Regions from separate parts of the Homo sapiens genome. Here all the other regions are linked to region 3. The links come from fine-mapping of genetic effects on gene expression. A gene starts in region 3. Each other region holds a variant in brackets. All regions are shown on one strand. Distances are between the middles of the regions. Region 1 holds the start of MIR4276 (microRNA 4276). Region 2 has its middle 60 kb from the start of HPGD. Region 3 holds the start of HPGD (15-hydroxyprostaglandin dehydrogenase).

The links. PIP is the estimated chance that this variant, and not a neighbour inherited with it, causes the effect.
Region 1: its variant is fine-mapped to the expression of HPGD in whole blood (INTERVAL, PIP above 0.99). The same link has a PIP of 0.9 or more in blood mononuclear cells.
Region 2: its variant is fine-mapped to the expression of HPGD in whole blood (TOPMed, PIP above 0.99).

Annotation. Positions count from the first base shown.
Region 1 is chr4:174,415,582-174,424,228 of GRCh38, forward strand. It overlaps MIR4276 (microRNA 4276), which reads left to right and starts at 8,214; the gene lies at 8,214-8,283. The variant C/G (reference allele first, on the strand shown) is at 4,927.
Region 2 is chr4:174,577,776-174,586,422 of GRCh38, forward strand. No RefSeq gene overlaps it. Among named protein-coding and RNA genes, the nearest start is that of HPGD, 60 kb to the left of the region's middle. RefSeq lists an enhancer at 8,388-8,647. The variant T/C (reference allele first, on the strand shown) is at 4,844.
Region 3 is chr4:174,518,456-174,527,102 of GRCh38, forward strand. HPGD (15-hydroxyprostaglandin dehydrogenase) reads right to left here and starts at 4,033. Exons shown (of 7, transcript NM_000860.6): 1 at 3,904-4,033; 2 at 3,489-3,612. The coding sequence starts at 3,996. It overlaps LOC105377548 (a long non-coding RNA gene), which reads left to right and starts at 4,158. Exons shown (of 7, transcript XR_007058492.1): 1 at 4,158-4,674; 2 at 4,930-4,966; 3 at 8,357-8,453. RefSeq lists an enhancer at 843-1,372.

The DNA.
Region 1 (8,647 bases), 100 kb before region 3:
GTATTGGGTGCATATATATTTAGGATAGTTAGCTCTTGTTGTTGAATTGATCCCTTTACCATTATGTAATGCCTTCTTTGTCTCTTTTGATCTTTGTTGGTTTCAAGTCTGCTTTATCAGAGACTAGGATTGCAACCCCTGCCTTTTTTTTGTTTTCCATTTGCTTGGTAGATCTTCCTGAATCCCTTTTTTTTGAGCATATGTGTGTCTCTGCATGTGAGATGGGTCTCCTGAATACAGCACACTGACGGGTCTTGACTATTTATCCAATTTGCCAGTGTGTGTCTTTTAACTGGAGCATTTAGCCCATTTACATTTAAGGTTCATATTGTTATATGTGAATTTGATCCTGTCATTATGACGTTGGCTGGTTATTTTGCTCATTAGTTGATGCAGTTTCTTCCTAGCATTGATGTCTTTACAATTTGTCATATTTTTGCAGTGGCTGGTACTGGTTGTTCCTTTCCATGTTTAACGCTTCCTTCAGGAGCTCTTGTAGGGCAGGCCTGGTGGTGCCAAAATCTCTCAGCATTTGCGTGTCTGTAAAGTATTTTATTTCTCTTTCACTTATGAAGCTTAGTTTGGCTGGATATGAAATTCTGGTTTGAAAATTCTTTTCTCTAAGAATGTTGAATATTGGCCCCCACCCTCTTCTGGCTTGTAGAGTTTCTGCTGAGAGACCTGCTGTTAGTCTGATGGGCTTCCTTTTGTGGGTAACCCGACCTTTCTTTCTGGCTGCCCTTAACATTTTTTCCTTCATTTCAAATTTGGTGAATCTGACAATTATGTGTCTTGGAGTTGCTCTTCTCGAGGAGTAACTTTGTGGCGTTCTCTGTATTTCCTGAATCTGAATGTTTGCCTGCCTTGCTAGGTTGGGGAAGTTCTCCTGGATAATATCCTGCAGAGTGTTTTCCAACTTGGTTCCATTCTCTCCATCACTTTCAGGTACACCAATCGGATGTAGATTTGGTCTTTTCACATAGTCCGATATTTCTTGGAGGCTTTATTCATTTCTTTTTACTCCTTTTTCTCTAAACTTCTCTTCTCACTTCACTGCATTCATTTGATCTTCAATCACTGATACCCTTTCTTCCAGTTGATCAAATTGGCTACTGACGCTTGTGTATTCATCACGTAGTTCTCGTGCCGTGGTTTTCAGCTCCATCAGGTCATTTAAGGACTTCTCTACACTGGTTATTCTAGTTAGCCATTTGTCTAATCTTTTTTCAAGGTTTTTAGCTTCTTTGTGATGGGTTTGAACTTCCTCCTTTAGCTGGGAGAAGTTTGATCGTCTGAAGCCTTCTTCTCTCAACTCGTCAAAGTCATTCTCCGTCCAGCTTTGTTCCATTGCTGGCGAGGAGCTGCGTTCCTTTGGAGTGGGAGAGGTGCTCTGATTTTTAGAATTTTCAGCTTTTCTGCTCTGTTTTTTCCCCATCTTTGTGTTTTATCTACCTTTGGTCTTTGATGATGGTGACATACAGATGGGGTTTTGGTGTCACATCCTTTCTGTTTGTTAGTTTTCCTTCTAACAGTCAGGACCCTCAGCTGCAGGTCTGTTGGAGTTTGCTGGAGGTCCACTCGAGACCCTGTTTGCCTGGGTATCAGCAGTGGAGGCTGCAGAACAGCGAATATTGCTGAACAGCAGATGTTGCTGCTTGATCGTTCCTCTGGAAGCTTCATCTCAGAGGGGTACCCAGCTGTGTGAGGTGTCAGTCTGCCCCTACTGGGGGTGCTTCCCAGTTAGGCTACTCGGGGGTCAGGGACCCACTTGAGGAGGCAGTCTGCTCATTCTCAGATCTCAAACTCCGTGCTGGGAGAACCACTACTCTCTTCAAAGCTGTCAGACAAGGACATTTAAGTCTGCAGAGGTTTCTGCTGCCTTTTGTTCGGCTATGCCCTGCTCCCAGAGGTGGAGTCTACAGGGGCAGGCAGGCCTCCTTGAGCTGCGGTGGGCTCCACCCAGTTTGAGCTTCCCAGCCGCTTTGTTTACCTACTCAAGCCTCAGCAATGGTGGGCACTCCTCCCCCAGCCTCGCTGCCACCTTGCAGTTCGATCTCAGACTGCTGTGCTAGCAATGAGCGAGGCTCCATGGGCATGGGACCCTCCCAGCCAGGCGCAGGATATAATCTCTTGGTGTTCCATTTGCTAAGACCATTGGAAAAGTGCAGTATTAGGGTAGGAGTGACCCAATTTTCCAGGTGCCATCTGTCACCCCTTCCCTTGGCTAGGAAAGGGAATTCCCTGACCCCTTACGCTTCCCGGGTGAGGTGATGCCTCGCCCTGCTTTGGCTCATGCTCAGTGGGCTCTACCCACTGTCCTGCCCCCACTGTCTGACGAGCCCCAGTGAGATGAACCCGGTACCTCAGTTGGAAATGCAGAAATCACCTGTCTTCTGTGTTGCTCACACTGGGAGCTGTAAACTGGAGCTGTTCCTATTCGGCCATCTTGGAACCACCCTTTAAAGGTTGCTGAATTTTATGTAATGAAAATATCATTAGAATATCAGATGTAACTCATAATTTAGTACTTTTTGTAAGCATAGCAAAAAGTATAAAATAAATATCAATTTATTTGAATATTTAAATTTGTTTCTCCTATTGATATTGTTGATTTGCTCGTCCACTTGAAAGAGGCAGGAATCATCACTGTAGTATTCAAACCATGAGTGTTATAGTGGTTTACAAGAATTAGGAATGAAAGGAAAAGAAAATATGTACAAAACTTAGAGAAAATGGTAGGAGACATACCCTTGGATGGACACCATCTTAATATTTGGAATGTTACTGTAATCCTACAATTCATTTAAAAAATATTTTACATAGATCTCGTGCAAGCTTGAAAGTAAGAAAAGTGCAGATTTTTTAAAAATTTCTATTATCAGAAAGAGTTCTTTAAGTTAAAATAAGAACAAAAACACATGGAAATATGAAGTGAAGAAATTTGGTAAAAATTTAGCATACATAAAATCTAGGTAATAATTTGAACATAACCCATTAGATTATTGTTAATTTATTTTCCAAGATAACATTAAATTACTGCATCTCTGATTACTAAGATTTGGTTAATTTATTTTTTATTTTCATGCTATTTTCAAAGACATGAAAAGAATCTACAAATTTTAGCCATTAGTACTATCTTTCTATTTAAGAGATGCTAACTGATAACAAAATAAGGTCTGATTGGCATATTTCTGCATATTTTACGTCATATTTCAGTAACTGTGCTAAAGAATGATGCAATATCATAAAAGATAGTAGCAAGATTGAAAAAAGCTAAATTATATCATAAATCACAAATGAGGGTGAGTTGTCATTTCTATAACTACTAAGAAATATCCCGATCTGGAAAAGCTAAAGATTTAGCTATTGCTAAAGATTTTGGGTAAGAAAAATTTACTGTATTGTCATTGACCTAATGAGGATCACTGATTCATTAAAAAGTAAGTAAACATCTCTGGAACCCAGATTTTTATCAACCATGACCTTTGGCCTAAATTTGTGAATGCATTCAATTCACTATGTTGCTTTTGGCAAGCGAAGACACAATAGCTAAATTCTGACACGTTATGCATAAAGAGAGCCTTTCTTTCTTTTTCTTTTTTGACCACATCTTCTAAACTTAACAAAGTCTCTCTCTATATGTAGTCTTATATTATATATATATAATATAAAGTCTATATACTATATATAACATAGTCTTTTATATAGAATATAAAGTCTATATATTATGCATATGTAATTTTTTTTTTTGAGAGAGGGTCTCACTCTTGTCACCCATGCTAGAGTGCAGTGGTGTGATATCGGCTCACTGCAACCTCCACCTCCCTGGCTCAAGCAATCCTCCCACCTCAGACTCCAGAGTAGCTGGGACCACAGACACACGCCACCATGCCTGGCTAATTTTTGTATTTTTTGCAGAAATGGGCTTTCCCAGTGTTGCCCAAGCTAGTCTCAAGCTGGACTCGAACTCCTGAGCTCAAGTTATCCACCTGCCTTGGCCTCCCAAACGCTGGGGGATTACAGGCGTGAGCCACTGTGCCTGGCCCCAGATATATATTTTTAAATCTCACTCCTTCAAGGAACTTTACTCAGTTTACATATTGCGAACATCTGTCCTTGGTGGTATTATTCTCTGCTTTCTCCCTCCTATCCTTTTCCTGCATAAATAGTATTGCTCTTCACATAGTATGTAGATTAGATACTATCTTTTTTTAAGGCAGTTTACTTATTTGAGAGAAAGAGACATGCTATATTCATATAATATATCTGATGTATAAAACTCATAAATAAGGTTTGCCTTACTTTAAGACTTAGATTTATTGGGGGAACCAGATATCCTAATGACTGTCAAGTTTTAAATTTTATGATTCCTCTCTCTGTCTTAAATTCCAAATCCACATTTCCCTGAATCTACTTAACTATATGATTATGTCTCACAAGCAGTTCACACTCAATGCATAGCTATATGTATTATCTTGCTTCCTATATACAAGTGAGTACAATCATTATAATACAACTTTCTAAATGTCTACTTTAACCTATTTTACAAATCTGAAAAATCATAATAATAACACCTATCTTCTAAATTTGTGAGAATTATATGAACTAATATGTGTACAGTGCTTTGTAGAGACCAGCGATTTTCAGAATTATTTTTATTGCCCCCTTTAGCAACGTGTTCTTGGTTACTATATTTATATTTCCTTCCTGTCTCTCAAATTTTTTTCCATCTCTCTTCTTCTTCCTGCCACTTCCTTGGTTATGTTTTCTCATCTACATTATTTCACAAACCACCTACCTTATCTTTTGGCCTGCAAACCAGACCATACCCTGTATGCTCAGCGTATCCTCTACGCTGCGGGAAGAGTGACAGCAAGAAAGTTAAATGCTGATTTTATCACCATGATTCTTCAAAATCCCTCAACT[C/G]TTTGCAAAAATAAAAGATAACACCCATTGTCGGTAAGCATGCTAGAAAATGGCATCTCACATGCCATCATAGGCATGAAAATTGACATTTTTTCAGAAAGCGACTTGCCTCTATACCAAACCCTTTCAATAGTACTTCTTGCTTGACCCAGCAGTGCCACTTACATGTATAATCCTGAACTAAAGGAGAAAATGTGCTCTGGATTTCTGGCAAAGCTTCCTTTAAGAGCAAAACCCTTTTTCAACAAGTGGTCATACGCTAGGAGAAAAACAATAGGAAATAATAATAATAAAAAAGAGAACTACCTTTACTGGTGCCAAGAGTAGAAAACAACAATCACATACCATAAAATCAAGGAAATATCATCCAAATCTAGGGAAAATTTAATTATCCAGAAGGCACCAAGACTGAGAAAAGAATGCATCATTGTGGAAAATAAGTGGAGAACATTTTGGTGACAGTTGGGAGAAGTATCGTTGGTCCCAGCTGACTTGGGGGACAGTCTCATTTGCTGCCCATGGCCTCAGATCAGTATCACTGCAAGGCTGTTAGAAGCACGGCTGTGGAATAAAGCATGTAGTCAAGCCACACAATTCTTTGCTGACAGAATTTGAAGTAGGTTTAATTTTCTTCTCTATGTTTTCCCCATTTTCAAATTTCCAAAGATGAAAAATTAATTTGACAGCAAAAAAACAAAAAACAATAAAAATAATGGTGGCTTCTTAATTCCTTATTTTAATGGGCAAAGTTATTCCCTCTCTGTTTATACTCCAGATATTCCACATGTGCTAAAACATTTAGAAATCTTCTAAAATACGATATGTTCTTTTTCCCTTCCATATCTTTGCAACTACTTTCCCCTGCAACCGTCTAGGGAGTTCCTTGTAATTATATGTCACTCAACTGAAAATTTACCTTCTTTATGAAATATTCTGTGATGTCTGTGTGCATGATTACATATTTCCACTTTTGTGTTCCCACTGTACTCTGTCAGCATCTAAGTTGTGGTACTCACCACACCAGTAAATTTCTGTGTACATTTCTCTCTCCTGTACCATGAGAGCTCTAGGACTGCAGGAATTGTTATTTTAAACTTTGTATGGAATTTAGTAAATGCTTATTGAATCAACTCATAAGAAAATTGGATGCTAATATTTTACTTTCTTCAGTTTCCTCATTGGGTTTAGTGGAGAAATTTCTCACAATATTGCCTGAAGGACAAGTTTGAGTACAGGTACATTATTCTTACATATTTTTTCTTTTTATATTTGTCATTATATGTCCATTTCCAGTGAATAAGTGTTTAATTACATTTGTTCATTCCATATTCACATTCCATTTACTGTTCAGAATGTGGAGATCATGTTTCTTGTGTTTGACTTGCTTCACACATGGGAGAAGTTGCATGCATGTGAATTCACTTAAATTATTTCACAAAGCAGAAGGGCACGGTGGCTCATGCCTGTAATCCCAGCACTTTGGGAGGCTGAGGTGGGTGGAACACTGGAGGTCAGGAGTTTGAGACCAGCCTGGCCAACATGGTAAAACCCTGTCTCTACTAAAAATACAAAAATTAGCCAGCATCGTGGCACAGGAGCTGCCTGTAGCCCCAGCTACTCAGGAGGCTGAAACAGGAGAATCGCTTGAACCCAGGAGGCAGAGGTTGCAGTGGGCTGAGATCGTGCCACTGCACTCCAGCCTGGGGGACAGAGCAAGACCATGTCTCAAAAAAAAAAAAAAAAAAAATTCACAAAGTGATGACTGCATTTTCATTCCATCAAAAATAAAAATTATTAGAGTTACTAATTGTATTATTTATCAGATGTGGAAGCAAAAGGATTTTCAATTCACTGTGCAGAGGAGGTATGCTTATAGAGACTCAAGAAAACAATCTGATTGTTTTAATTTTTCTCTAAGCTCGCCTGCCAAAAAAAGAATTCTGATCTGGCTCTTAGATTTTAGTAGATTAAATTTATGGAAAACAGGAATATGGTCCTATGCAAAATGTTCCGGTAAAAGTTTTTATGCTGATATTGAGTGAATTTTAAGCTTATTTAGTCTAAAGTAAAACACTAAGTTTTTTCCAGAACCTCAACTAAACCCAAATATTTGGAGAAAAAAAAGGAAGCAAAAACAAATGTTCAATTGTATGACAGAAGTTAATTTCAAAAATGAATGATGAAAGATGTTGACTTTTTTCTGTTATAACAACATATAACATATAATATTATAGCAGTAATATTATAATGACATAATTGTTTTCATTTCTTTTAACAAAATCATTAAATTGGTCCTTTCCACGCTTTACTACAAACTCTTTCAATTGTCTTCCATTTCTTTGACAAGCTAGAAGGGTCTAGATGTTTCTCATGTGGTGAGCCCTGTCAAACACTTTTAAGTTTGCATTTTTTTCCAGATAAATGTAACAATACCCATAAATCACACTTATTTGGATTCTTATCTAATATTGCATTGCAATAATTGGAAATAAGGCAAAAGCTTTTTGGAAGGTATGCAACACTTTACTCTCAAACCTCAGATAAAATCTAAAACCTGTGTGAGACTAAACTGAAAAGAGGAAGAGGGAAAGAAGGAAACATATTCAATGGAGGACACTGTGCTAAAATGTAATTTTACATTTCCATTGAATCCTATTTTATCAAAACCTGCATTTTTAGTTTTAATTTTGATTCATAGTGTGATTTGGGAATCATTGAAATGACACATGTTAAAGATTACAATACAAATAACACAATTTGCACTTCCAGTTTGCAGAATTTCCGATTTGGCAGTTTGCCAGCTCTTTGAATCTAAGAGAAACAGGGAAACAAAATTTCTGCAGAAGTGTTACTTCTTTCCAAAACATGATCCAGACATTCATAGAACCATTGAATTCGCTATTGCTATTCTGACTACCGGAGAAATACAACCTTTTTGCGTGTGTGTGTGTGTGTGTGTATATGTGTGTGTGTCATGTGACATTTGGCATTGGGGCTGGTGGAGGAAGATAAAACAAAACTGCATGTCTTGCCTGTTTTTCTGTTGAGTCTGACATCTGAGGTGTAAATTCAACAAAAATTAGACATCTCCTTAGATAAGATGACTCTAAATAAATATTCTATTTATAGTTCTCTGCTGACATAAATATAGCTTGCTTAATCATGCACGTATCCTGGAATATGTGTAAAGCCAATTTTGCTAAAGTGATTAATTTGTAGACTGTGTATTTTTTCTTATGTGTTCCTTGAGTCAATGAGTTAAATAATGGGATATGCTGTGGGCATGTCACAGTCTGACTCAGTGACTCATGTGCTGGCAGTGGCCACGTAAATAGAGCTACTGTGTCTGAAAGCAATGGGTAGCTAGAAACCTTTTTGACAGCTCATATGAAAACTTAAAGAATTTCAAAACAGGCTGGGTGTGGTGGCTCATGCCTGCAATCCCAGTACTTTGGGAGGCTGGGGTGGGAGGATCATTTGAGCCCAGAATCTTGAGACCACCCTGGGCAGCCTCGCAAGACCCTATCTCTGCATGTAAAAACAACAACAAAAAATTATAATAGTAATAAAAAAGAAGTTCAAAACGAAAAATATTTGCAAGGATTTTGTTTCTGGGTTTTTTGATTTTGTTATTAGATTTTTAATTAAAATAGAATAAAAACCTGAACTTCAAAATCAAGATCTGCTTATTTGGAAATTTTGTCTGTTACTCAAGTCTGTC
Region 2 (8,647 bases), 59 kb after region 3:
TGTCAAACCTTTTAGCTATTTTTAAGACATTTCCTTTTGTATTCATACATGTTATGCTGCTACTATTATTACTTGATTTATCGTGTGTGTGTGTGTGTATGTGTGTGTGTGTATGTAGAGAGAGAGAGACTCCCTCTTGTGATATTAACATTTTAGACCTGTTATATAGACCTTCATGTTAGTTTTCCATTCTCATACAACATTTTGTATGTTCTGGAGTTAATAATTTCTCACTTCATCTGGTGTTTAGTTGTCAACATGCCAATCTCTAATATTTTCTTAAATGTGCCTTCTGATGTGTCAAATACATATCAATAAATGTACTGAAAGTTCAAACACATTGAATTATCTGTTAGTTACATTTCCTTCCCCAACCCCCAACAAGAGTTCCTCCTTCCAAAGCCTTCTGTTGCCCAGTTCAAAACAGAATTGTTTCCAGGAGAGAAAAATAATTCTTAAACCAGGCATACCGTAACTATCTGCAAAGGAAAATGTTAAAAAATTGGACTGGAATAAAACCACAAATTGTTTATCAAAAGATATCATCATGGGCTTGGACAGATAAGAGACATATTGGGAGAAAATATTTGCAGCTTATTTATTTGACAAAGAATAGAAATAAAGAATATTGAAAGTACTTCTAAAAATAAATAAGCAAAAGCTAACACCTCTAACAAGAAAACAGACAAAGACTTGCACAGGAAGATCACAAAAGAGGGCATCTAAATGGTCAAAATGCTTATGGAAAGATGTTCAATCTATTAATCATCAGGGAAATGCAGATGAAAACCACAGTGAGCAATACCACTGCAAATGTGCCAGAATGGAGTTGCCAAATTTAGCAAATAAAAACACAGGACTCCTACATATATTTGAATTTTAGACATAAAATGAATAATTTTTAGCATAAGTATATCCCAAATATTTCTCATGTAAGTAGACATCCTGTATTTTACATCTGGTAACGCTAGCCAGAAAGTATGAGATTGAAATAATGAGCAACACCAAGTATCAGCGGCAATGTGGAACAACTGGAACTTTCAAAGATTACTCGGTGGAGTGACAATTGGTACAACGTCATTTTGCAGAACTATCTGGTAGTGTTGCTTAAAGTGGAACACAGTAAATCTTAGAACTCAGCAATTCCTCTCTAAAGGTGTACTAAAAGTCATGTACAAGGATGCATACTGCAGCACTCTATGCATTACAACTGTTTAAAAAGATGTTCATGTTAAAAAGTTCATTGATAATGTAATCAATCAATAAATTGTGGTGTAATCATATGATAGAAGATCAAATAGCAATAAAGAAGAGAAAACTGCATCTATACTCAATAGATTCATATCACCCTGAAACATAATGTTGACTGAAAAAAGGCAGACACAAAATAGTACATTTCATATGGTTTCATTTGTATAAAGTTTAAAGACAATCAATCCACAGTGTTAGAAATCAAGAAACTGGTTACCAAGAGGAAAATAGTAATTGAGAGGAGGCATAGTGAGAGTTTTGATAATGTTTCATTTCTTGACTTGGATATTGGTTGCGTGGGTGTGTTTGTTTTGGAAAATCATCATGCTGTACACCTTTTTTGTTTGTACACATTTTTGTGTATATTATACATCAATAAACAGTTTGTTTAAACAATTATTAACAAACGGTACTTTGTTTTTAGTTATAGAATATGATTTGTGATTCACATGACAACTGATTTTAACTGGTGAGCCATGGTGACACATTTGAGGTCAACGGCTGTAAAGAGCTCCCATGCCTGTGCTCAGGAACAGAGGGTCTTGGCATTCTTCCTGTCGCAACTGGGGGTGAGAAAACAAAAATGACCTTTCTGGGAAAATACACTGAGATGCATGTGTTAGCTTTGTTGAGAATAACTGTTCAACAGGCTCAGGGCATTTTACTCAAGTCTTTTCTGTCTTACTCACTGTTAAACATTGCCTCTCTGGTAGGCTATCTCTAATATGTATTGTTTGTCCATCTTCCTAGCAGTTGGCTGGGATTTGGCTTTGCTTTAAAAGTTAAATGTTTCCTCTTTGTATGCCATTAGCTTCATGTGTCATGTTTTCTAACCCTTAGGATTATCTGGACCAGTAATCCCTTGCCCGTCCCTTGCCTGGTTCCTGTGCCTTTGGATTCCGTTTTGTCTAGGATGCAGATAAACTTAAAGCATTATATTATAAAGAAGTGACATTAGTGTCTAGCTATATGGCTGAGGGGTTCCTTTATCTCAGAACAGGAAAGTGAGAAGTTACCACTGAGATTCAGCTATACTTATCATTATCACAAACAATAATAATAATTATGTAACTCAAAGTGTCATTGTTCCTGATACAGGGGTTTGGCCCCTTGTCTGGTTGAAGACAAATTCCTGGTCTCCTGTGGGTTCTTCCTAAAATCCCCTAGACTTTACTATTATTTTTAAACTTAGAAATAGACCCCTAATGTTTTATGCTCTCCATGACCCTTTCCTGATCATCTGTAAACTTGAGTACAACTCCTTTGGAACACATGTTCTTTCATGTGGTGGAAAGAATGCTTTGGAGTCCGACAGACTTAGCTTTGTACCCAGGCTGCTCCACTTACTGGCTGTGTGAACTTAAGCATGTTACTCTCTGAGCCTCCATTAACTCTGAGGCTAAAGATGATATTGTTATCTGGAGCCTAGAATTATGGTTAGATTATATGAAGTGTAAGGCACTTACCACTTTTCTGGGTACAAGAAACTTTCAAAAGATACTAGTTTCTTCCTTTCTTCCTTTCTCTTCCATCCCTGCCATTACTTTCACAGCTTACCGCGTCCTTCCTAAATTAGTTGATCAAAGATCCAGAAGTGCATCAATTGTGCGTTCACAACATCACCACCATGTACATATCTGCTTGAACGTTTATTTCCTAGAGGAATATCTGAATGATAATCTTAGAATATCTTCATTGAATCCCATGCAGGAAACATAAGCAAACTGCAGCTGACTAATATGATAAGAAATATTACAGACAGTTAGATCATGTGGCTAATGAGGACACACTGTGGGTGGTGCAGGGAGGAGGAGGAGAGGTCAAGTGAGTGCAAACCCATCCCTAAGGAGGGTAGTGTGAAGTATAATCAGTAACTCCCTTTTTAGCTTTTCTTAGGAACTTCATAACTATACTTTCATTTTCCCCAAATACTCCTCTTACTCCCTATGACAGAAACAAACAGAAAAGTTTTAGGTAAGTAATCAGTTTTATTTGTTGACTGAGTGAAATAAATGAATGCAATAATGAGCAGTACCATGTATAAAGAGTATGAATTTTGGTACAAGACAGCACAGGCCAAAATCCATGATCCACAACTTACTAGCCATGTGATGTTGGAAATTTAATTCAGTTATACTCTGTAAGGCTCAGTTTCCTATCTGTCAAATGGAGATCATATCTGTCTCTCATGATTATGCTAAGAAGATGATGTTTATATGGTCTTTAGTGCATTGCTTAATAATGTTTATTATTAATATTACTATCACTCTATGACTCCTGTTACCGCTACCTTACTTAAATGTCTCATCCAGACGTTTCATGTCTTATGGTCCAACACACTCCTATTCTTGTATATAAAGGGCTCAGAGGCCCCAGGCTTTAATTCCAGAAAGGACACTAGGCCGCTTTTTCAGAGATACATGCTCCCTCCCTCTGCTGCTTCCAAGAGTCGTGATTTGCTGCCCCTTTCCACTAAGAGAGTTGTTGGAATTGCAGCCTCTCTCCTTCTCAAGCTTCAGTGGTTCTGGGATCACCTAAGTCTTCTCCTCTGGAAAACTGGAAAAACATTCTCCTCTTTCCTATTCAACATTCATACTCCTGACAGTGGATTTTTACTGCACTGAAATAATTTATATGCCCTTCAATCTATAGATGGAAATAATAAACACTGGCAGGTCTGTTCAGTTATCCAACATCAAATTCCCCTGGGCTGTGAAAATCAGATGTCTACGTGCTTTATTTTTGTGTAAATAGATTGTAGTTTGTTCCTGAAACTTGTTTTTAATGGCTGAGCCTCATCTTCCATCACATTTATATAGGGTATAAGTTTAATAGCAACTGCGGTATTATACACAAGTATTTTTAAAAACCAGAAGACATTTTCTCAAAATATATGCCTCCCTTGATGAAATCTTCTGTTGCATTTTCCAAAAAAATAAAAAAAAAAAGGGGGCCTTTGGAATAAAATCTGTCTAATTATTTGTAGTATAAGCCTTTTTTCTCTTTTTATTTTTTCCCTTATTTGGAATGCTTTTGTTGTTGTGTACAATGCTTATGCAACCAGTTTATTGCATCAGCAGGATTTCAATAGGCACAAACGTAAAGTAACTTTGTTCCTTCTCCCTAAATGCTCCTTTTGACTTAATGTGCCAAATTGTTCTTTTCTATCCATGGATGAGGATTCCACAGCTTTGTCAGCTACTTTCTGGAATTAATGAGTAGCATCAGTTTCCAGCATAGAAAGAGCAGCCTAATAGAAAATGATCCATATGTGATCAGATTTCTTTCTTTTTCTTAATTTAAGACAGATCTTGCTCTGTTGCCCCGGCTAAAGTGCAGTGGCACGATCACAGCTCATTGCAACCTCCACCCGCCAGGCTCAAGTGATCCTCTTGCCTCAGCCACCCAAGCTGCTGGAATCACAGGCACCCACCACCATGCCCGGCTAATATCTGATCAGATTTAAATCTCTCTTTCCCTACCTCAGTCCTGCTTCTGGAAAATCTGCAGTAAGAAGTAGGTTTTGTTTATGCACTCTTTCTTCATCTGTTTCTTCCACTTCCCCTGTGTTTACTATGCAACCTCTGATTAA[T/C]GGTTGGGTGTGAGAGTGGAGATTGATTAATGGGGAAGTGATACGGGGCACAAAACTTCTTACCTGACTGGCGCAGTTATTATCTCCTACTGGAGCCCTCTGACATGGCAGATTCCAAATGCTGATATTTCTCTTATAATGCAATCCTTGCCTCTAGACTTCTCGACCATGCATCGGGTAGCAGACCCTGCATTTCTCTAATCCAGAGCTCACCAGGCCATCCTCCATTCATTGCTTTCACTTAGCTTGGGGATTTGGTGACAAAGACTCATTCCTTTTTTCCCCAGCTTTATTGAGGTCTGATTGACAACGTGGTATAAATTTGTGGTGTACAATGTGAGGATTAGATAGATAGATTGATGATTAGGTAGATAGATAGACAGACAGATAGATGATAGTGACATGATTACCACAATCAAGATACTTAACACTTCTATCACCTCAGTTACTGTTTGTTTTTTAATGCTGAGACAAAGACTCTCTCTTTTATACAGATTATAGCCAGGCTTCTCTGAGCCCTCTTCTTAACTAGACTTCAGCCTTGGCCTATTAAGACTTAAACAACACTCATGTAGTTTCTAGAAACTCAAAGTCGCATCTGCAAAATAACCTTTGCCCCCCTTAAAGTGCCTGTCTGAGAAAACTCAAGGCTGCCGAAGAAATGTATTATTCGTTCCAGGCAACACCTGAGAAAAGGGCCTCTGTCTCTGAGTCTCTTGGGGAGAACAGGGTCCTATCTTTGATAATTGTCAGTTAGTGGACACAGCTGGTCTAATGACATTTACACTAACTAACCCTCTGTAATTTTTCACTTCCATGACTCTGCTAAGCCTCTAGTTCCCTCTCCTTACTCCCTCACCCTCCCTTTAAAACACTTGCTCATCTCTGTACAAATTGGAGTTCAGTTCACTTTGGACCGTTTTTTCTATTGACATAGTTATTACTGATGAAAATCTGTCCTTACCATTTTAACTAGGGTCTAGCTTTGCTTATCTTTGACCTTGGGCCCGGGGGTAGGAAAGGAAGTCTCCAAGATGGTCTCTATCTCTTGACCTCGTGATTCGCCCGTCTCGGCCTCCCAAAGTGCTGGGATTACAGGCTTGAGCCGCCGCCCCCGGCCGAGATAATTTTTTAAAAGTTTCATGGGGCCGGGCACGGAGGCTCATGCCTGTAATCCCAGCACTTTCGGAGGCTGAGGCGGGTGGATCACGAGGTCAAGAGATAGAGACCATCCTGGCCAACATGGTGAAAGCCCATCTCTACTAGAAATACAAAAACTAGCCGGGCGTGGTGTGGCAGGCTCCTGTAATCCCAGGTACTCAGGAAGCTGAGGCAGGAGAATTGCTTGAACCTGGGAGGCAGAGGTTGCAGTGAACCCAGATGGCGCCACTGCACTCCAGCCTGGTGACAGAGCAAGACTCCGTCTCAAAAAAAAAAAAAAAAAACAAAAAAAAAAACCTCATTAGCAAGTTCCACATAGATGCTGGAACTTCTTTTTAGATTATATGGGTTCTTAACAATCCTTTATTCTATGCAATGGACCCTCAACTGAGAGTAAGACAACAAAATATGTTGTATATTTATCACAAAGCTGTACACCATGAATAGCATAAGAGCTTATAACCAGTTTCTGATGGGTAGCACATTAACCATAATTTGTTTTAAATCTTGATATTATAAAAGGAATATTAAGCAAACTGTGGAGGTCTGAAAGTATTGTTTTTTGATATACCTCATAGTATAGCTCATATTCAACTGATATCACATGATACTATCACATAATGTGATAGTAATGGTATATCAGTTGAATATGAGCTATACTATTTTCTCTTTAAAGTTTGAGGATCTTCCTTTTCTATTAATTTTGCCATGCTTATGTGGGTATCCTATTTTTTTTATGATGGGATGAAAATTATTAAGCCAAGGCTTCTGTGCTAGCTGTTATTATCAATGATATCAAAACACTCATTTTTGAACAGTATAAACATATTTCAAAAGCAATCTGTAATAACTCTTAAAATAGATATGATCATTAAAATGGTAAATGTCTACTGTAGCAAACTGAAAAATATAAACATATATGAACAGATTGAAAACACCAATAATTGGTGAAAAATCATGGGTAACTTATTTTAAATTTTGATGTATATTTTCTAGTTTCTACATCCACAGTGCATATTTTTTTCTACTAATGAGATAATATTGTGTATTTGCAGTTTATCCTACTTTAAAATTTAGTATATATCAGAATTAATCAATAGTCTTTGAGAACATGGCAAATATGTTTTAATGGCTGAATAAAAGTCTATCATATAGTTACAACATCACATATTTTATTTTGTCTCTACTATTGCGTATTTACATATTGCCCATTTTATTATAATAAGTATATCAATAAATTTCTTTATATATAAATCAATGTATAAAGCTCCTTTTATTAGAATGTAAATCTGCACTGACTGAATCAAAGATCAAAGTTTGAACATTTTGCTCTTCTTGAAAGAAATTTACAGTTTATTCCCTAGATTCTATTAGTAATGTATGAGTGCCACTATTATCAGACGCTACTAGATTGAATATTGCTTTCTAAATCTCAATGCTTTTACATGTAAAGATGGTATTTTATTATTTGCACTTTTGTTTCTCTGATAATCATGCCTTTTAAGTGGCTTTCCATTTTCATGAATGTCTAAGCCAATTGAAATATTCAATCTGAATATGCCTTACTCAAAATCAGATATTTAATGAGAATCTTTTCTAGTACTGAAAAAATAATGTCTTTTTCACCATGATGGTGGACTGGTAACTCTGTGTCTGAAAATCTGGGCCAAAACCATGTCAATATGAGTTATGTTCTAGAACTTTGTGGCCTTGACTTTTCATTTATTTTGTGTGTAGCAGGAAACCAAACTACTTTCTAAATGCAATTCTGACCCTATTGTCAGCCCAGCCTACATCAGTTCTATGTAAAGTCAACACTTGCTTTTCTTGTGAGTGTCATCCTAATGGCCCTTTTCACCCTAGTGACACAACACTCCTGCCTCCTTATAGCAGCAGCTGAATCCAGTTTGCAGCTTCCCCAACACTTGCTAGACTAGCTCCATCACATCTCATCCGACAGATTTTGGCACCAGGCAGCAGGCAGCCTGTCAGCAAAAGTTGAGGTGTCATAATAAAAAAAAAAAAAAAGTTGGGGAGTCAGGCCCAAGGAGCCCTTCTCCAAGCTCCCATGCACCACCATCAGTTGAGCTGCAAGCACTTCTAACTCAGAAGTCCGAACTTAACCTTCATGAGGTTGCTCCAAGTTTCTAGGTTTTAATAACATCAGCCTCTTCTTTGTTTCCCCAGCCCTAATTAGCTATTTCCTGTAATTGCTACTCATCATGGTCCCTTTCAATTCCCCTTTTATCCTTTTGTGACCTTGTTAATAAATATATATGTAGTTTAAAATTCTGTATATTATTTTCTCTTTAAATAACTTATGAGATTTCTCTCTCTTGACTGAACCCTGAGTGATACACCTAGATAAAGGCAATAACCAAAATTATGGACATATTTTCTTTATTGAAAAGTATAATGCCTATTATGGGAAGGGCCAGACTTTTATTTTTTATTTTTTATTTATTTTTATTTTTTTATTGATCATTCTTGGGTGTTTCTCGCAGAGGGGGATTTGGCAGGGTCATAGGACAATAGTGGAGGGAAGGTCAGCAGATAAACAAGTGAACAAAGGTCTCTGGTTTTCCTAGGCAGAGGACGCTGGGGCCTTCCGCAGTGTTTGTGTCCCTGGGTACTTGAGATTAG
Region 3 (8,647 bases):
TGTCTCTTAGTCCCTGAGAAGCTACTGAAGCTCTGTAGCTTAGACTATTGGTAAACATCCTTTTCCATAAGCCATATTAAATTCATAAAGTGTTATGTTAATACAAATATTCTTGTGTATTCAGATCTATTATGCATGTTTGGGGGAGTTTTTATATCTTAGTAAAAGTCTACTTTTCATTCAGTTGATTTTATTTGATTACTGAAACTTCGATGTTTACTATTTCCTTCTTCTTTCTCACTATTATTACTACTTCAGATTACTAGGATTACTAGTTTGTATAAAACTATGTTCAAACAGGATAAAGTTGGCATGGATTCTGAGGCCTGAATGTCTTTCATTACACTGTCCAATCACATGTCTATTGTTTCTCAAAGCAGCCTTTGACAGAGTTCTAATTGATTTAAACTGTTTCCCCGGGCCTTTGATCATTCATTCTACTTCTATTATTTTACACTATGGATAAAAATTGTGGTTGTTTTTCTACATGACGGAAATATATTCTCAGGTGTCCAGACCAACATATCAAGTCCTTAAAAAAAGTAGGTCAGCATAAGCTTTATTTTGATTGAAATAAATTCATATAATCATTAACAACCACCAGACATATTGGGGAAGACATGGATTAATCAGTTGCCATATAGATAAATTACTATGCTAGTTGTTTACTAAAAACATTTTCAAGATTTCCTAATATGTACCTTTTACACTCACTGTACGGGAATGGAAGAACAACAAACACAAACTGTTTATTTTTCATGGATTTTTTTTTTTTTGAGTCGGAGCCTCGTTCTGTCCCCCAGGCTGGAGTGCAGTGGCCTGATCTCAGCTCACTGCAAGCTCCACCTCCCGGGTTCACGCCATTCTCCTGCCTCAGCCTCCAGAGTAGCTGGGACTACAGGCGCCCACCACCACGCCCGGCTAATTTTTTGTATTTTTAGTAGAGACGGGGTTTCACCGTGTTAGCCAGGATGATCTCTGTCAGGCCTCTGAGCCCAAGCTAAGCCATTATATCCCCTGTGACCTGCACATATACATCCACATGGCCTGAAGTAACTGAAGAATCACAAAAGTAGTGATACTTAAATGGCCTGTTCCTGCCTTAACTGATGACATTCCACCACAAAAGAAGTGAAAATGGCCGGTCCTTGCCTTAACTGATGACATTACCTTGTGAAATTCCATCTCCTGGCTCATCCTGGCTCAAAAAGCTCCACCACTGAGCACCTTGTGACCCCCACTGCTGCCCACCAGCGGGCAACCCCCCTTTTTCCTTTACCTACCCAAATCTTATAAAATAGCCCCACCCCTATTTCCCTTTGCTGACTCTCTTTTCCGACTCAGCCAGCCTGCACCCAGGTGAAATAAACAGCCTTGTTGCTCACACAAAGCCTGTTTGGTGGTCTCTTCACACAGACGCGAGTGAAAGTCTCGATCTCCTGACCTCGTGATCCGCCCGCCTCGGCCTCCCAAACTGCTGGGATTACAAGCGTGAAGCCACTGCACCCGGCCTTTTTTCATGGAATCTTAAAAATGTTTCTTAAAATCTCAAATTGGGTCCAGAAAATGTCCCCCAGTATTTTTTTTTTCTCCTTCCATTCTGAGTATGTTCTAACTCTTCATAACTCCACAGAAACAACCTTCACCTTTTGGAAAATGAGGGTGTTAAATATGTATGTCTAATTGCCGCTTTAATTTTCTTTCCTCATTCTGTTCTCCACCGTATTCCTTATACTCTGCCCTTACCAATGTATAGTATACCATCTTGTTTTCTGACATCCCATTGAATTCCAGGCTCAAGCAACAGACAGTCTACCTCTTGCTGACATTTATATGCTATGGTACTCTTTGTAACTTACCTAAACTCTCTTGGCTGTGATTTGTTCATTTGGAAAATAAGTTATGTTTAGATTATCTCCAAGAAACTTTTCATCTCATATTTTTATAATTTCCACACTGTCTAAACAATTTTAAAAGTTATAGGCAACATTAAATCCTGAAACTGGAAGAATCAATGTCATGTTTCCTTTAGATGCAAGCAAATGCTCATGTCCAGACAACATGTGGATTTCTCATGACCAACATGCCTTCCCGGGTCACTTATGTGTCTGAGTATTTTTCCTCCTCCACAATCATTTATCCTTAAGGAATGAGTTTATAGCCAAGGTATTAATTTTAAATACTGGGAAAAAAACAATTGTAGTTAAATGTCATTTATGAAACTATATAAATTGAGACAGAAATGGCTTTCAGATTGTTTATACTGTTCCTTATGCCATCAGCATGAATGTTGAGATCTGACCTGGCTCTATCCTTGATCCAAAATATCATGTGCAATCAACATAATTGTCCTCTGGTACAATATGTTCCTCTTGCATTGTGTTTACAAATCTGTTCTGCTCATGCTTGTCATCTGTGTTATAGGTCTTTATTAGCATTTTCAGATTTCAGTTATGTAATTTCCTTTACAATTTCTCTTAACTGTTGGTACACCACTTCCTTCTAACACGTCAGTTCATTTTCATTCTCTTACAGAATATTTTAAAATTTTAAAATAAATGTACATTTGATGTCCCTTTAAGAACAGGAGCACTGGAATAAGATTTGCAAAAGTTTTCAGACCCCTTGATTAAAAAGTGCCTTACAATTTACTCAGTCTCTTTGAATAAAACTTTGTGAAATACAAATATTTTACTTTTCTAGTTTTTCTCCAGAATTTTTGTTTCCTGTAAGTTTATTGGGGCACTCTCAAGTTCTCCAATAGATGTACAAAAAAAAAAAAAACAGCTTTATAATCAAAGCTGTTTATTGTGTATGCCAATATTGTCCCTGATACTTCACAAGTAGATTGGTCTATTTTAAGTGAGTAGCCGGAAACAGGAAAGCATTGAGGAAAGGCTGATAGAGATGTTTCTACTACAATTCTAACATTGTATACTTTATTATGATTACTATTATTATTATTTTAAAGTACTGTCTCATTGGGGAAAAAGCCGGAGAAAACATATGGTCAAAAGCATCTAGCACTTCTGTGATGATGCTCCTTGAACTTGTATTCTGATATGTTTAAACGAAAAACACTGCCACATTTGATTGTCATTGGACTCCAGCTTTCTGGGAGAAGTTGTTTGTCAACAGTACCTTACTTAACCTACTTTAATTTTCCAAGTTTTGTCTGCAATTTCAATCATTTAATAATTACTGCAGCAGCACTGTCTTTGAATACATAAAGGAATTTTGATTACATTAATGCTGCCAAATGACTACAATAAAAGGATTTCTCCAGCAGTCTTGCCTTTCTTTCGGTTTTACAGCTATTGGGCTGTCAGAAGGAAACGTATCAGTCCAAACTGTCTTTTGGAGCTTCAAGGTAGCTGCTCTCGAGGAGGCAGCGGAGGCGGCACCCAGGGCCCCCTGGCCGGGCTGCCTTCAGGTTGTTGCTTGTTGAGAGCACGTTCCCAGTTGACAGATTGATTCCCCTGTCTTACCTCTCAGTTGTTGCTGGTCAGCCACATCGCACTGGATGAACAGAGTCTTCTGAGGTTCAAACTGCTCATCCAGGGCAGCTTTACACTGTACACCTGCTTCAAGATTCCAATCCACCAGCGCTACCTATAGACAAGAGGAGAGGAATCGCGGGCCTGCGCAGCTCACGAAATAGACGGACAAACAATAAACACACAAGAGGCTCCCCTCCTGGACCTGAAATTTGGCAATTAGGTTTGGGTTCCCTCCCAGCCACTTCTGAGGTGTGCTCACAGCCTCAGCTTCAGCAAATTTTGGAAGTGGCAAAGTGGGCACGCCGGGCGCGGCCTCCCTGTCTCCGCCAGTGCACCTCGGGCGGCGGGGCGAGTCTCGGAGTGTGTGGGCAGAGAAATTTCCGCGGCTGGGCGCCGGGCTTACCTTGGCGCCCTTAAGCAGCAGCGCCTCTGCAAAGGCTCTGCCTATGCCCTGAGCCGCGCCGGTCACCAGCGCCACTTTGCCGTTCACGTGCATGGTGCAGCCACTGCTGGGGCGGGCGGTGGGCGAGCTCCGCGTCTCCGCGCGGCCGCGGCTTTTATGCCCCCCTGCGCGCGCGCGCGTGCAGCCCGGCGGGGCGCTCCCCTGCCAGTGGGCGGGGAGGAAACTGTCAAGCCAGCGCCCGCCGGGGAACCCACGACTGTGTCACCTGCCCCCTGAGCGTTCTGGAGCGCCAAGCTTCGCGATCTTTGCCTTCCGGACTCGCAGACCGGCTCAAAGCCTCCCCTCAGCCTCTGGCTCCGTGATTGGCAGGCAGCTGACAGAAGAAAAGTTAAAAGGTTATTTCTGAAGAAGAGTTTCCTTCAGTGCCCTAAAGACCAACTGGATAGAAGGAGAGCGGAGCAGAGGCTTGGAAGCTTGGATCCCTCCTCCTGCACTCCCTCCCGGCCCCGACTCCGGAACAAAACAAGCAAACAATAAAGCAAACTTGTTGCTCTTTTGTCTCAAAGTTTTGTGTGAGTTCCCATCTCGTAATCAGTGGGGTTGAGGGTGACGGGGAGCAGAAGTAACTAATATCATTGTGTTTTCTTAGTTACATTTTGGACAAATTTTTACGGATACTGGAGATGAGAAGTGGACTCTGCTCTGTCCTGAAAACCTGGAATCATAACATTTCATGGCTAGGACTAGAGTGTCCTTGGCGCTGTGTTTCTGGTCAGTGTCAATTGTGTGTCATATTGAGATGCCCCCACAAAAACTGTCATCATCAACAGGCGCTCCAGAGCCGCTGGTAGCCTACCAAATTGTTGGCTCAATGGAATGCTTACTTGTTGAAATACACCAACTTTGGAAGCTCTGAGTCAAGTTTGGGACAGAGGTTCCTTGCTCTCCAGGAACTCCAGGGCTAGCTGTATGCGGACTTGCATAAATAACAAGGGCTATTCCACTGACTTTGTCTCTTTTTCTCAGGTTGTCAGCGGCAGGCTGCAATTTTAATTCTGTAAACGTAAGTGGTTGGCTTTTTTTTTTTTTTTTTTTTTTTAATCTTGAGACAAGATCTCGCTCTGTCTGTTTGGCTAGAATGCAGTGGCATAATCCCAGCTCGCTGCAACCTCAATCTCCAGGGCTCAAGCGACCCTCCCACCTTGGACTCCCAAAGAGTGCTAAGATTACAGGCATGAGCCACTATGCCCAGCTGGCATTTATTTTCTTAAAGAAAAAAAAAATCTAAATACTTGGGGGAAATGGGAGTTGAGCAAAAGACTGACACTAACAGCAGAATGAATCATTTTTATATCTTCTTTACCTTCTTTACTGGGAAAGGTGGCTGGCTCAGCAGGGAAGGAGTGTATGAGGAGACTGTGTAAAATGTGTCTTGTCGCGTTGTTGGTAAGCCGCTAAGCAAATGTCTTTAACATTAATTTGAAATTAGGTCTTGACAAAATCTTGAGAAATTAAAACAGGAAAATAGATATTTGTACTCTAGGATGATAATTAAAATTGTAATATGAAGAGTAAATTGAGGGGTCATATTGAAAGGGAATAATAGTAGAAGACAAAAAGAAAACAAGGAACCAAACAAAACTTCAGCTCCTCTAATGGCATGCACAGAACATAGAAGTTTCTGATGAAGGAACTGGCAAAAAAGACAGAAAAGGAACTGCTGGGGTAAAATGGCAACATGCTGGGAGAACACAGGTTTGCAGCTCTTGTGGGAGAAATACTTTCAAGAAGAAAGAAGTAGTTAATAATGCAAAATACTCAGGTGAGCACCAGGGAATAAAGGATGGAGAAATATTTTGAATTTTTCAGGACAATATTTAGTGTGAGTAAATTTAGAAGGCACAAAAACTGAACAGCTGAAATGATCTGTGAGAAGATAGATATTGTCATGGACTGAAGACCAAGGTTACATGGAAAGAGAAATGGACTGGATAATAGTTGAAAAGATTAGACAGCAAACATGTTTTTCTTTTAAGAAAAGATAAGAAGATTGATTGAGGTCAAAGTGCAATGAGTCAAGGATAGTGACAACTGGAAGAACAGGAAGCAGTTTGGCGGTGGCGGATAGGTGAGGCACAAGGACGTCAGCACTGGATTCAGACAAACCGGGTTTGGATCTTGTGTCTGCTACTGACCAGCTGTGTAACCTTGGGCAATTTGCTTCAACTCTGGGTCTCAGATTCCTTATTATAAAGTAAGCTTTTCTAAAAAAAAAAAAAAAGGTGAAAATTAAAATAGGTGAAGCATATTAAACACTATTACAGAGCCTGCCACAAAGTATTAATACATTAATATTAGTCCCAACATATTACTTCTGAAATATTAATGAATAATAAATGTGAGATAGAGAAAAATGTGAAGAATAGGTTTTTTTAGTAGATAGCAAGGACTGAGGTCTAGAGAAAACTTAGTACCCCTTCATCCCTTTCCCTCCTCTCAATTTCCACTGCCACTGTCCAGATTCATATTTTCTCCTATGATAGCAAACAGCAGTTAGCTTCTCATTACCTCCAAATACGCCCCCCACTTTTTTTCGCATTGTGAGATGCTTTTATTACAGTGAATTAAACTGCTTACCAAACAGTGATCTTTGTAAGGAAGGATTTTTTCCCTTTTTAGTTGACATGGAATAACTGTGCATATTTATGTGATCTATATATACAGAGTGATATATATGTACGGAGTGATATATCAATACATGTATACAATGTATAGTGACAAAATCAGGATATTTGATTATTAGCATATTTATTAACTCAAATGTTTATCATTGCTTGTGTTGTGTACATTCAAAATCCTCTCTTCTGGCTTTTAGAACCTATACACTAAATTATTGTTAACCATATTCACCTTACATGTGTTCTAGAAAACACTAGAACTTATCCTCTAATCTAGCTGTTTCTTCGTATCCGTAAACCAGCCTCTCCCTATACACATCTCCCCTTACCCTTCCCAGCCTCTGATAACCACAATTCTACTCTCTACTTCTATAAGGTTTTTTTTTAGCTTTCACATATGACTAAGAACATGCAATATTTATCTTTCTGTACCTGACTTATTTCATTTAATTGCTCCACATTTCTTAAATCCAATTTACCTTCTGCACTTCTCCTAGGAAAATTTCTAAAACTGATCTGATCGTGTTTAGATATTCTCATGTTTAAAATCCTTAAAATATCTAAACTCCTGGGCATCACATCTGAGGTGTTCCATGCCCCATGTCTTTCTTGTGGCCCTTCTTTACATGCCAGGAAGCTGTGTGTCAGTCACAGGTTTAGCATCCCTGATCTAAAAATCTGAAATCCTAATTGCTCCAAAATCTGAGCCTTCCTGGACTGTGATGTAAGCAAGATATAAACTTCTTATCTGTTGAGCCTTTGCATGTTTGTTTCTATTTTCTATCACAGCCTAACCTAATATATCTCCCAATAGAAAAAATCCTCCCAAATGTCCCTGATGACTAAATCATGTAGAACACGGGGCAAATTAAATCTTTTTGGTAGATAGCCATCAGGGCAACCAAATTGGCTAACCTACTAGATCATTTATTGCCATAAAGTCTCCAAATAGACATAAATTACTTACTTATCTAGCAAAACAAAGATAGTGTCATTATACACTGCCTCCCTGGCCCCCACTCCTAAGCAATAATCTTTTTTAAATGAAAGTTTTTGTTAAAAAGTGCTCCAACAATCTGAAACATGACAAGTGGAAAATTCCACATGTAAGTACTAGATACAAACTTGGTTTCATGTACAAAATTATTAAAATGCAAAAGATTATTTTCAGGCTATATGTATAATATGTATGTGAAACAAATAAATTTTATGGTTAGACTTAGGTCTCAGCCCCAAGGTATCTCATTATGTACATGCAAATACAAAATCCCCCCAAAATTCTGAAATCTGAAATACTTCTAGTCCTAAGCATTTTGGATAAGGGACACTCACCTGTATAGCCTATAAATAAGAATGTTCTTACAAAATTATATGGATGATGGTTTATCTCAAATTTAACTTTGTTTTAGCTAAGAATTATGTTTTTAATAACACAAATCACTGTGATGACAGAAATATATAGCTGATGTAATGTCCTGAACATAGAAGCTGAGAAATGCATATAAAAATCAGAGGAGTGGGGAGATGTTGACTGGGTAAGCAGCCCTTTTTTGGTTTTATAATATACCACATATAATGTTCTATAGATATTTTAAATTCAAAATAGACTTTTAATATAAAATATGGGAACATTCTTCTCCAAAAACCCATTATCAATATATTTCTGTTATATAAAAAGATAATCACAACATATGGGAAATCTCACCATCCTATTAAAATTTTCCATCTTCTCTTGAACACATATCTCATATTTATATATACTTTTCTTTGGTCAGCGTGTATTGCGCGTGTACTTTGGGTGGCCCTGTGCTGCGTCAGCTGGAAGGGATCCAGAGAAAAAGACAGAGCCCTCTTTGAAGACATCCAGAGAGAGTAAGCTCCTTATGATCCTGTGATTGGTATTTCCATGGTAGAGATCTGATAGCTGCATAGGAAAACAGTTGAAGAAAGTGGGAGGGCAAAGATACTCAAGAGGAGCGGGTATCAAACGGCAAAGGCCTGAGGGCATGGAGAGTGGCTATGTTTTAACTGACACATGGCTTCCTAGCATGTAGAGAGCTGTATTT